3 linked regions of the Homo sapiens genome follow. The protein of the gene in region 1 purifies or fractionates together with the protein of each later gene. This does not show direct contact. Each region holds a gene or a part of one and is shown in the gene's direction. Other genes may lie near its edges. The genes, in order: CSRP3, XPNPEP1 and SMPDL3B.

Region 1 (3,650 bases):
GAGGCCATTCATTTTCCTGTAGCTCAACGTCAGAACAAGCTAGCCTGTCACTGCTCTCTGTAGGGAAAACTTTGACCCCATGGCGACATTGACAACATGTGACTTGGCAGAGAAAGGAAGCCAGCACTTATCTGAAGCCAGGATGGATTTGGCTGTCTATGTTGCCCCTTCTGGTCAGCTGTGACTGAAGCCAGCTGTGACTGGTCTTGTCTGAGAGAGAACCTATGTCAGGCAGGGGGGCAACACATGCCAACTCTGTATGTAAGAGTCAGAGAGGGAAGCATTTCAGGGCCTGGGCACCAGTAACTGCATGAAAGAAATCCTGACCATTACCCGCCAGACACTGACTCACACATGTCAAAAATAGGGAGAACCTTGAGACCTTGTGGCTTGAACCTTGAGAACCTTGAGAACCTTGAGACCTTGTGAGTCTGGTCCTGCCTGACTCACGTGACTTTCGATAAGTCATTTCTCACATCTAAGCCCGGGTCATGTGCATCTGCGATAGAGTCTTATACATGAACCTCTACCTTTAGACTCCATGTCCAGTGCTCTTTGACATGACTGCATTCTATACTGTTTCCTGGCAGCTAGTCCTGTTTGGGAGAAAATTGGCCTTGGTTTTAAAATGGCCACTTATCTTCTCTGCTTCTGTCCAGGAGGTCTGGCTTAAGGGCTAGCTCTGCTGGATATTTGGCGAGCCCCCTCCCCGACTAGTCCCCACAGCCATGCCAGCACCCCCATGCTTCAGCCCGGTAGCTGCAAGGCATCCATGCAATTGAAAAGAACTCCAAGGGCTGGACTCCATCTGTTGGGGCTTTTGTCCAAAGAGAGCTAGCATTCTTTAAAAAACAGGATTAGGAATATTAGAAAGAATTCTAGAATTAGAGTAAAAGGGATTCGGGTTTGAGTCTGGGCTCTGCCATGTACTCACTGAGATTTTGGGCAGGTCATTTCACCATGGTGAACCTCAATTTCTCCACTTATAAAACAAAGATGATTATACCTACTGCACAGGTTGTTACAAGGAGAAAACTGGGGGGTCTTGATATGGAAATCCAGCCTTCTAGGCCTGTATTCTCCTTTGATCAACTTTGGTAACTGCGTGGGAACAGGAAATTGTAGGGAAGCTTTCCTTAGTAGAGGGTGTCTTGTCTTTCCCAGGTAGGAGGAAGATGCCCTGTTCAAAGGAGTTATAGTAGAAGAGATTTGAGCATTTTTTGGTACATCCCTTTTAACCCTTTGATATTTCCTGAGAACCCTTTGATGGGATGAGGATTTGAGCAGCATACATTTCAGGAACGATGGGTAGAAGAGCCCCAGAGAGGAGCACACTTTTCTATATTATTACCACAAGATAATCACCTGTCTGTCCGCAGGCAACTCTGTAGCTGCTGGAAAAGGCGTTCAGAGACGCAGGGTCTACCTTACATTGTGCCCAGGCCAGTGTTCCCCTGACTTCTAGATAAATCTTCACAATTAAATCTCTAGACTAATCATGAAATCTAGAAAGTAAGTTTGCTGTCCAAAAGAAATAAATATAATGCAGCAACATATGTAAATTTAAATGTTCTAGTAACCATAGTTTAAAAATGGTACAAATAAACAGATGAAATTAATCTTAAAACATTTTATTTAACTCAATATATCCAAAACATTATAATTTCAATGTATACTTCAATATACAAATGATCAGTGGGATATTTTACATGATTTTTGCGTTTGTACTGAGTGTTTGAAATCTGATGTGCATTTTGTGCTTACAGCACAGCATGTGGCTGTGGCCACAGCACTGGACAGCACAGTTCTCCTTTGTCTGTTCACAAAAGCTCATCAGAAGCCAGGGAGTGGCTACAGAATTGGCCAGGGCACCTTAGGGTATAGGCAGTCTTGGAGTGATGGGAATGAGCACTGGACTAGGAGTCAAAAGAGCTGAGGTAAGCCGTGGCTCTGCAACTTACTATTGTATAATTGTGAACAACTCACTGATTTACATTGACACATTCATTCATTCATTCATTCATGTACTCAATAAATGTTTACAGAGGACTAATTCTGGCCCAGGCCTTGTGCTAAATTCTCGGAATATTAAGACAAAACAGGCTTGCCCTCAAGGAACTCAGAGTCTAGACCATCAGCAAATATGCAAGCAGTTGTTGTGGAGGTTGGTAACTGACAGTAACAAGAAGGGTAGAGACAAGTGTACACACCTTCTATGTCTCAATATAAGGCATTCTCCCCCCAAATTCATCTTCATAAAAAAGATATGCCTTGTGTTTAAAGCCTTATAAAGTCTCTCCTGCTGTAAGACATTCTTCCAATTATTTTATTTACTGATTTAAACTTTTTTTTGGTACAGATATTTTTTAACACATACAATGTTGACAGAATAGTCAAATAAAGTCCCAGAATAAACTCCCTTGCCCCACACTCATCAGCCCCTGGCTAATCCTACCTCATCTACAACCTTATCTTCTTCCTCCACTCCCATATTCAATTACTTTATCTTTTAAAAAAGATAATATCATTTGAAGAAGGCATATTAGCCTGAAATAACCTCATTCAATGCTGGATTGCTTATAGGGATCATTTGATGGAAATGTTTTTTTAAAAGGCAAATACATTTAATGCACACATATTATTATTCCTGGGGATATTATCTCCCTATTATAAGCACTGAGCATCACTATAAACAACCTTTAAGAATCATTGTTGCAAAGCAATGTAGCAAGTCATTACATGGTGGAAATTCTATATCTTTTAAAAAATCTGCCCTAATGCTATGCTAATAGGTCCTTCTTGTTGAGATGCAATTTCTAGGTGACAACCTCCTACTCAGGTATAAAACAGGGCTGCCTCTTTAAACGTACAGATAGAAGTGAAAGTGAGCTGCTCAGAAAAGCTGGGCCAGCTGCCCCCAGAAATGATTCTGGTGGTGAGGGAGATGCCGATGTTGAAGATGCAAAGACAGAATTGGAGATAATTATTCCCCAAATTTATGTGGGATTAGAAAAAAGTAACCTTTCCAAATCAATATATTGTTGATTTATATTACTAAATTAAAATTATAAGTAGATATTTGACATTTTTATTTATATCTTTAAAAGTTTCCTTTTAAATTTGCAAAATAAATCTTTCTATAAATCCTCTCTTTGGAAAAATGAGGGCTTGATTGCCTTATACTGGAGGATACTTTACATTAGGTAATATACAGTAACCAGGGGGCTTGAGCCAATAGAAGCCTAAGGAGTTAATAAGGCAGGTCTACCCCCTTCCCCACCTCCTCTGCTTCCAGAATTTGACCAAAATTAGCCTCAATGGCAATTGTCTGCTTGAATATCACAGTGTCCTTCAAAGGCTGTGGTAAGTACAGAAAGTGCTCAATCCTGATTCTTTTATGATTAAGAAAAAAGTAAGTTTCTCTCCTGCCTTAACCCACCCCCTGCCAACGCGCGCGCCCACAAACACACACACACACACACACACACACACACACACACACTTCCCTGATGTCATTTGGGAAGACTCAGGGATGCAGTCCTTAGCAGGTCTGAGACTATATATCTCGTTCTAATGCTAGCTTCCACCCTTTTCCAGCTGGGAACCACTGAACCCAATTTTGTCATCTGTGAGATCGGGACTGTCTTGGA
Region 2 (3,654 bases), on another chromosome or scaffold:
GAGTTCATGATATAATTATTTAAAATAAAGTTGAATTTAATAAAGCTGATTTAAAGATGGTCTAAAGTAAAGTACTAAGTGAATAAGGGTACAGCAGTTAAGAAGCTAGGGTAAAAGCTGTGCAGGTGGTATAAGAATGCTTGAAGCTTGGGAAATGCTTCTCTACCCCCTCCTTCTGCCGCACCACATTTTATAGCTAAGGACACTTGAGGCTCAGAGAGGATTGGGGAGTTGGGGATTTGGGGATTTGTCAAATTCAAGTGATAGTGATAGCCTTGCCCTTTACTGAGCCCTTGCTGGGCAGTGCTAAGCAGCTGACACTTGTTGCCTCATTTTCATTAGGGTCTGGGATGGGACTGGAATCCAGGCCTCTTTAGAGGTAGGCTTTTCTACTGTCCTCCCCTGGGCCTCTGGCTGCCAAGTGGCCTTTGGCAAGCCCAGTGATGTCCTTTCTTCTCCACTGAGCAGTGGGGCATCCTGGGAAGAATCCAGGCCTGGCTCTCTAGATCTGGCTTGCCATTGTACCCCTGCCATCATCACACACAGTGTGACTCCTCCTCTCTCTCTCTCCTCTCTCTCTGGAGAGAAAGAGAAAAGGAGATAAGATCACAAAAGCAATTTTAGAAGCTTTGTGCAAGTGCCAGGTGTGCTGAGGCCCCTCTGCTGGATTCTAACTTGTTCTCAAATTGGAAAGGGTCTTCTCCAGCCCTTCAAGATCAGATTATTATCAGTAGCTGAGATAGGACCACTGGGCGGGAAGGGAGGGAGCAGGAGACCTCACTCATCAGGTCATGTGCATGGCTAGACAGGGAGAAAAAGCCCCCTTTGTACAGCAAGAGAAGGGTGATTTCGGTCAAGCTTTCAGTGTTAGTGAACTCTAACCACAACCACAGTGGCTTGGAAAGCAATGTCTTGCTGACGGCAGGCAGCCAGCAGTCTCAAAGAGCTAAGGGAGTGAGGGATGGAAGAGAGACACCTTGTTTGATGTACTTACTCTTTTTGGTTGAGCTTAAGCTCAGGGTCATCAATCAAAAGGGACAGGTCGTTGGGGCCCCAGGGGATAGCTATATGGGTCGCCAGTGGGAGCTCTTCAAATGATTTGTCTAAAGTAAGTTTTGCTGAGCAAAAAGGTTGTTGCCTTGGTCTTGGGTGGGTGGAGCCGGTTTGATTTCCCACCCTACTGCCCTTTGCCTCTAGGACCACCGCTGCTGTATGCCTTACACCCCCATCTGCATCGCCAAAGCTGTGAAGAATTCAGCTGAGTCAGAAGGCATGAGGCGGGCTCACGTGAGTAGAGGAGCTGGTGCAGAAGATGGGATGTGAGGTGGTCAGAAGGCCCGGCTCCTTCACCTCCTCTGTGGCATTGAGCCTGGCACAAGGTTAGAATCTCTCTGAGCCTCAGCCTCCTGGCCTTCCAGGAGGAGTTATTGAGGGAATGAAATAAAATACTTGATGGATTAGATCTTTACAAAGTATAATACACAATACAAAAGGAGATATTGATGTTCACAGTGTAGATGATGGTGATGACGTGATGCTGATGAAGAAAGATTTTGGGCCCAGAGGTGGCTTTTGATAGTGGCCTGTTTTTTCCTGGCCCCTGTAGGGTTCTTAACCTTTAAGTTAACCTTTTGGAGGAGCTCCCTGTGCTCTGAGGTGGGGCCCTTCCTGATTGTACCTGAACTACTGAATAGCAGAGGAGCCTTTCCCTGATAATGGGAGTTGCTGCACACACCAGCTTCCCAGAAATGTCCACATGTAAAGCTCTGGTTGCTGATGATGTGTGGCCCTGCAGGTACAGCCTTCTCAGTATTGCATTAGGGCTAGGCTCTGAATCTGGTCACGTGATTTTCAGTGATAACTTAAAAAATGTCTCCATTGTTTGCACAGATTAAAGATGCTGTTGCTCTCTGTGAACTCTTTAACTGGCTGGAGAAAGAGGTTGGTTCTTAGTCTTTGTTTAATATGTGGATATACATTATTCAGACCTACCTATATGTGATTCTAACTCTAGCATCTCCCATGCTCTGCTGACCATGAGATCTGAGATCTTCATCAAATTTTTGGGCTCTATTTTAATAATTCTCTCTGGAAATTTGGTGTGTGTAGATTTCAAAATTCCTTAATTATGAAAATAGTAACAAGAATGAAGAAAAGTTCCATAATAGAGTGGATGCTTTTTGGGTTAGGGAATCATAACTAAGTGGAATTTCATTATAAGGAAAAATGAGTCTTATAATATTATTATAGGCAAGCTGATTGTATTAGGAGAAAAAGATCTTTGTGTACATTTTGAACTTCAGTTTAAGCCTTGAGCCTTTTTATATTAAATTGACTCTTGGCCATTAATTTCTTGCTCTAGTTGACAAGAGGGTGGTTTCTCTGTGGTGTTATTAAACAATATCATGTTCCCTTTAAGTATTGTATAAACAACTCTTTAATTGGGAAAAGAAAATATTGTCTTTATTCCCACTAGTGTAACTTTTTCCCTCATGTTTCCTTCTGGTGATTGTTCATCTATGTAAATTATTATTATTATTTTATTTTATTTTATTTTTTGAGACGGAGTCTCACTCTGTCACCCAGGCTGGAGTGCAGTGGTGTGATCTCGGCTCACTGCAACCTCTGCTGCCCAGGTTCAAGAGATTCTCCTGCCTTAGCCTCCCAAGTAGCTGGGATTATAGGCGCCTGCCACTGCGCCTGGCTAATTTTCGTAGTTGTAGTAGAGATGGGGTTTCACCATCTTGGCCAGGCTGGTCTTGAACTCCTGACCTTGTGATCCACCCACCTCGGCCTCCCAAAGTGCTGGGATTACAGGCATGAGCCACCATGCCTGGACTTTATGTAAATTATTATTATTACATTTTTATTATTTTTTTTTATTTTTGAGACAGAGCCTTGCTCCATCGCCCAGGCTGGAGTGCAGTGGAGCGATCTCGGCTCACTGCAAGCTCCGTCTCCTGGGTTCACGCCATTCTCCTGCCTCAGCCTCCCGACTAGCTGGGACTACAGGCGCCCGCCACCATGCTTGGCTAATTTTTTGTATTTTTAGTAGAGACGGGGTTTCACTGTGTTAGCCAGGATGGTCTCGATCTCCTGACCTTGTGATCCGCCCGCCTCGGCCTCCCAAAGTGCTGGGATTACAGGCGTGAGCCACCGTGCCTGGCCGTAAATTATTTTTAAAAATATAAATTATTTTTACATGTCTCTTAGTGTGCAGATAAATTTTTTTTCTTTTTTTTTTTCTTATTTTGAGATGGGGTCTCATCTGTTGCACAGGCTGGAGAGTAGTGGTGTGATCACAGCTCACTGCAGCCTCAGCCTCCCCAAGCTCAGGTGATCCTCCCACCTCAGCCTCCCGATTAGTTGGGACTACAGCCCACCTGATTTTTTCTGATTTTTTTGTAGAGATAAGGTTTTGCCATGTTGCCCAGGCTGATCTGAAACTCCTGGGCTCAAGCGATCCACCTATCTTGGCCTCCCAAAGTGCTAGGATTATAGGTGTGAGCCATCACACCTGGCTTAGATATGATTTTGTGTTTTATTTTATTCTCTTAGAATCATAGTGTGAACATTTTCCATGTACATTGAGGCCTTAAAAAAGGATCCAAATGAAAACTGCATCTAGTGGCTCTTCTGATTTACTAACCCAGT
Region 3 (3,654 bases), on another chromosome or scaffold:
CAAGCATTTCTAAGGTGGACCCAAGAATTTTGATTCATGGCATGAAGGGCACAGTGGTCCCAGGGCAGAATCAGTATCTGCCCTGGAAAAGATCTGAACCCTACACTTGAAGCCAGCTTCAAACTCCTTTGAACTCTTCTGGAAAGGAACAGAATTCAGAGATGGCTTCTCAACCCTGAGCTCCCTCGGGGTTTGCAGATGGGACTGGAACTCCAGAGCTTTCCTCTCTAAATAATAATATTCATTACAACCTAGCAGCTACTCTTACTGTACTATATTATGTATATAATTTTCCTCCTTGATGGATACCTAACAAACACTCTGTGAGTAAGAACTGTATTATCCCAACATTACAGATGAGTTAATAGAGGCTCAGAGAGGTTAAACAGCCAATCAAGGGACCCACAGCAGGAAAATGGCAAAGCCTAGTTCTCAGCTCTGTCCCATCTGACTCCACTCTAGCCTGGCCATTCCCCCTCAAGGGGACATCTGAGGCCCAGGTCCATAGGTTTTCCTCTCACTGCAGAGCTGTCCCTTCCTTTTCTTCTGCTGCTTCCTGAGTTGCCTGCCCCAAATTGGCTTGGTGGTGTTTTGTAGTGATGACACGCCTCATGTGCCCGATGAGAAACTGGGAGAGGCAGCTGTACTGGAAATTGTGGAACGCCTGACCAAGCTCATCAGAGAGGTCTTTCCAGGTAAGACTGTGCCATCAGTCCCTCCACAGTGTTCTCGGAACTCTAGGCACTGCCTGGCACAGTGGGACAACAGCAGCAGCGAGTGTCCTGGCTGACCTTCATCCATGGACAGCGATGGCTGTTGGCCAGGTCTTCATGGTGACCATTTCTCACCTTCCTAACAAGCCCGAAGGCAACATGCAAGCCCATGGGCCGGTGGATACACACAGAATCCTATCAAAGGAAATGCCCAGCCTTTCACTGACTTCTGCTCCTGCCTATCTCCAGACTCATGAGCCCTTCTCCAGGTGTCTAGAGTTGCACACAGGTGTCGTCCCTGGGTGAGTCTCACACACAGCCCTTGTGTCCTGCTCTGGAGTTGGCATCCATCACCCTCAAACTGTCCTGGCTGCCAGGGCCTCTGGGAAATGCTAATTTCCAGCCAAGGTGCTGTTTCTTGTTGCTTCCAAGGACTTCAGAGTCTGGCAGAGCAGGCAGGGACTGGGGGTGAGTGAGGCAGCAGCCCTACGGGACACTATAGGGTGAATAGGGTCTGCGTGCCCCATCTGATGGCCCTTGCAAATGTTTTAAAGCAGTCTGCACCGAAAACAACATCCTGGAGGCTAAATCTGGCTGCCAGGCTGCCAACTGGGCGCCTGAGAAAGCAGCCCATAGCCCCCACCCCCACCTTTTTTGGGTTCCAGTACCTCTGCCCCCTCTAAAGATCTTCATCATGGGTCCCAGGACACAGATATGGAGTAATAATAAAAATAAATAATGGCACTAGCAGCAGTTACTCTAGATCAAGTGTAAAGGGTCAGGCTGGCTCTAAGAATATTCAAGCCTTAGCTCCTTCACTGTCACCATAAGCCTTGGGGGAGGTGCTGTGACCTCAATTTTACTGATGAGGGAGGTGAGCCTTAGGGTTAAATAAACTAGTGAAGGTCACATTTACTTAAGAGGCCCAAATCCTGGTGTGAGCACTGCCCTTACTGTCTGTTCCCGCTGCTTCCTTTCCTCAACAAAGTCAATCTAGGCAAAGAGATGCCTGGATGCTTCCAGGTTATCTAACCCAGCCAACCCAAGTCAGGCTGCTTGGTTTCCTTTGTCTTCCAGCAGGGGTCAAACCAGGACATTCCCCTGACCCCAACAGCAGGCACCATTATTCCCAATGTATAGAAAAGGAACCTGTGGCTCCGAGCTAGTCGGTTCCGAGGGAGGGACTCAAACTCAGATCCAACTGGGAGTACCTCTCCTTTGCTTCACATGGGGCTTCTGGAACACAAGTCAAATAATGAGTAAGAAAATGCTTCACTGACTGTTTTGTTTTTTGAGAGAAGGTCTTGCTGTCACCCAGGCTGGAGTACAGTGGCACAATCAAGGGTCACTGCTGCCTTCATCTCCCAGGCTCAAGCAATCCTTCCATCTCACTCTCCTAAGTAGTTGGGATTACAGGCACACGCCACCACGCCCTACTAATTATTTTTATTATTTTTTTATTTTTTTAAGGCTGAGTCTTGCTCCGTCGCCCAAGCTAAAGTGCAGTGGTGCGATCTTGGCTCACTGCAACCTCCACCCCCATGGGTTCAAGTGATTCTCTTGCCTCAGCCTCCTGAGTAGCTGGACTCTAGGCATCCACCACCATAGCCAGCTAATTTTAGTATTTTTGGTAGAGATGGCATTTCACTATGTTGGCCAGGCTGGTCTCAAAGTCCTGACCTCAAGTGATCCGCACGCCTTGGCCTCCCAAAGTGCTGGGATTACAGGCGTGAGCCACTGCGCCTGGCCTGTTTTCAATTTTTGTAGAGATGGGGTTCTTGCTGTGTTGCCTAGGCTGGTCTTGAACTCCTGGGCTCAAGTAATTCTCTCTCTTAGCCTCCCAAAGTGTAGGGATTACAGGCATGAGCCACCATGCCTGGCCTATTGACTATGATTTAACACAAATGTAAATTATAAGATTTTGTAGTTTCTACTACACTTGCATGTTTATTGAATTTCCTAATATCCAAGATGCCATTGACTGAAAGATGCATCATTATGTATAACTAAGAAAAAACAGCTACCAATTATAATCTGACACAGCGCTTTCTCATGGCCACACCTCACTTTTAGAGATGGTACTATGAGAACAAATTGGAAGAGATGAAATGAAGGTATTATCTAGCTGAGAATTCTAAAAACACAAGTCAAGCAGAACACTCCCATCTTATAGATAACTAAACTGAAGTACAGAGAGGTCGAGTAAGTGGCCTAAGAAGAGGAAGGGACTGAAACTCGAGATTCAGGGTTCCACATCATGTGTTCTTCCTGCTGTGTTCAACTTTACCCACCAGAGTCAGCTGTGAACACTGGTCCTCACCTCATCAGCACAGCCAAGTGGTTGACAACACAGGCACGCAAGGCAAACAAATCCAGGGCCCTGGGCCAGGTGCAGTGATCATATGCCTGTAAACCCAGCACTTTGAGAAGCTAAGGCTGGAGGATCGCTTGAGGTCAGGAGTTTGAGACTGGCCTGGGCAACATAGCAAGACCCTGCTTCTACAAAAAATAAAAAAAAATTAGCTGTGTGTGGTGCTGTGTATCTATACTCTTAGCTACTTGGGAGGCTGAGACAGGAGGATCACTTGACCCCAGGAATTTGAGGTTACAATGAGCTATGATCGTGCCACTGCACTGCAGCCTGGGAGGCAAAGGAAGACCCTGTCATGCAGGGCCCAATTCTAGCTCTGGTATGGTTTAGCTGGGTAATCTCATAAAGACTCAGTCTGCTCCCTGTGAAAAAGGAAAATAATGGTACCTGTCCACAGGGTTGTTATGAGGATTAAATAAGGTAATTCATTCACTCATTTAGTCAATCAACAAATAGTTATTGAGCATCCACTATGGGTGAGACACCATTCCAGGAGTAGAAGACATGGCAATGAACAAGACACCAGGTCGCACCCTCATGGAGCTTATGTTTGCAAGGAGCTGGGCACAC

Evidence for each region.
Region 2: the proteins of CSRP3 (region 1) and XPNPEP1 purify together in Homo sapiens (affinity purification with mass spectrometry; one large-scale study listed by BioGRID and IntAct). This does not show direct contact.
Region 3: the proteins of CSRP3 (region 1) and SMPDL3B purify together in Homo sapiens (affinity purification with mass spectrometry; one large-scale study listed by BioGRID and IntAct). This does not show direct contact.

What each region holds. Positions count from the first base shown.
Region 1 is NC_000011.10:19,188,466-19,192,115, reverse strand, and holds part of CSRP3 (cysteine and glycine-rich protein 3), read left to right. Parts: intron 1-3,650. UniProt on the Homo sapiens protein: Positive regulator of myogenesis. Acts as a cofactor for myogenic bHLH transcription factors such as MYOD1, and probably MYOG and MYF6.
Region 2 is NC_000010.11:109,878,475-109,882,128, reverse strand, and holds part of XPNPEP1 (xaa-Pro aminopeptidase 1), read left to right. Parts: intron 1-1,197; coding exon 1,198-1,287; intron 1,288-1,890; coding exon 1,891-1,941; intron 1,942-3,654. UniProt on the Homo sapiens protein: Metalloaminopeptidase that catalyzes the removal of a penultimate prolyl residue from the N-termini of peptides, such as Arg-Pro-Pro. Contributes to the degradation of bradykinin.
Region 3 is NC_000001.11:27,948,468-27,952,121, forward strand, and holds part of SMPDL3B (acid sphingomyelinase-like phosphodiesterase 3b isoform 1 precursor), read left to right. Parts: intron 1-526; exon of another isoform or gene 527-597; coding exon 598-695; intron 696-3,654. UniProt on the Homo sapiens protein: Lipid-modulating phosphodiesterase. Active on the surface of macrophages and dendritic cells and strongly influences macrophage lipid composition and membrane fluidity. Acts as a negative regulator of Toll-like receptor signaling.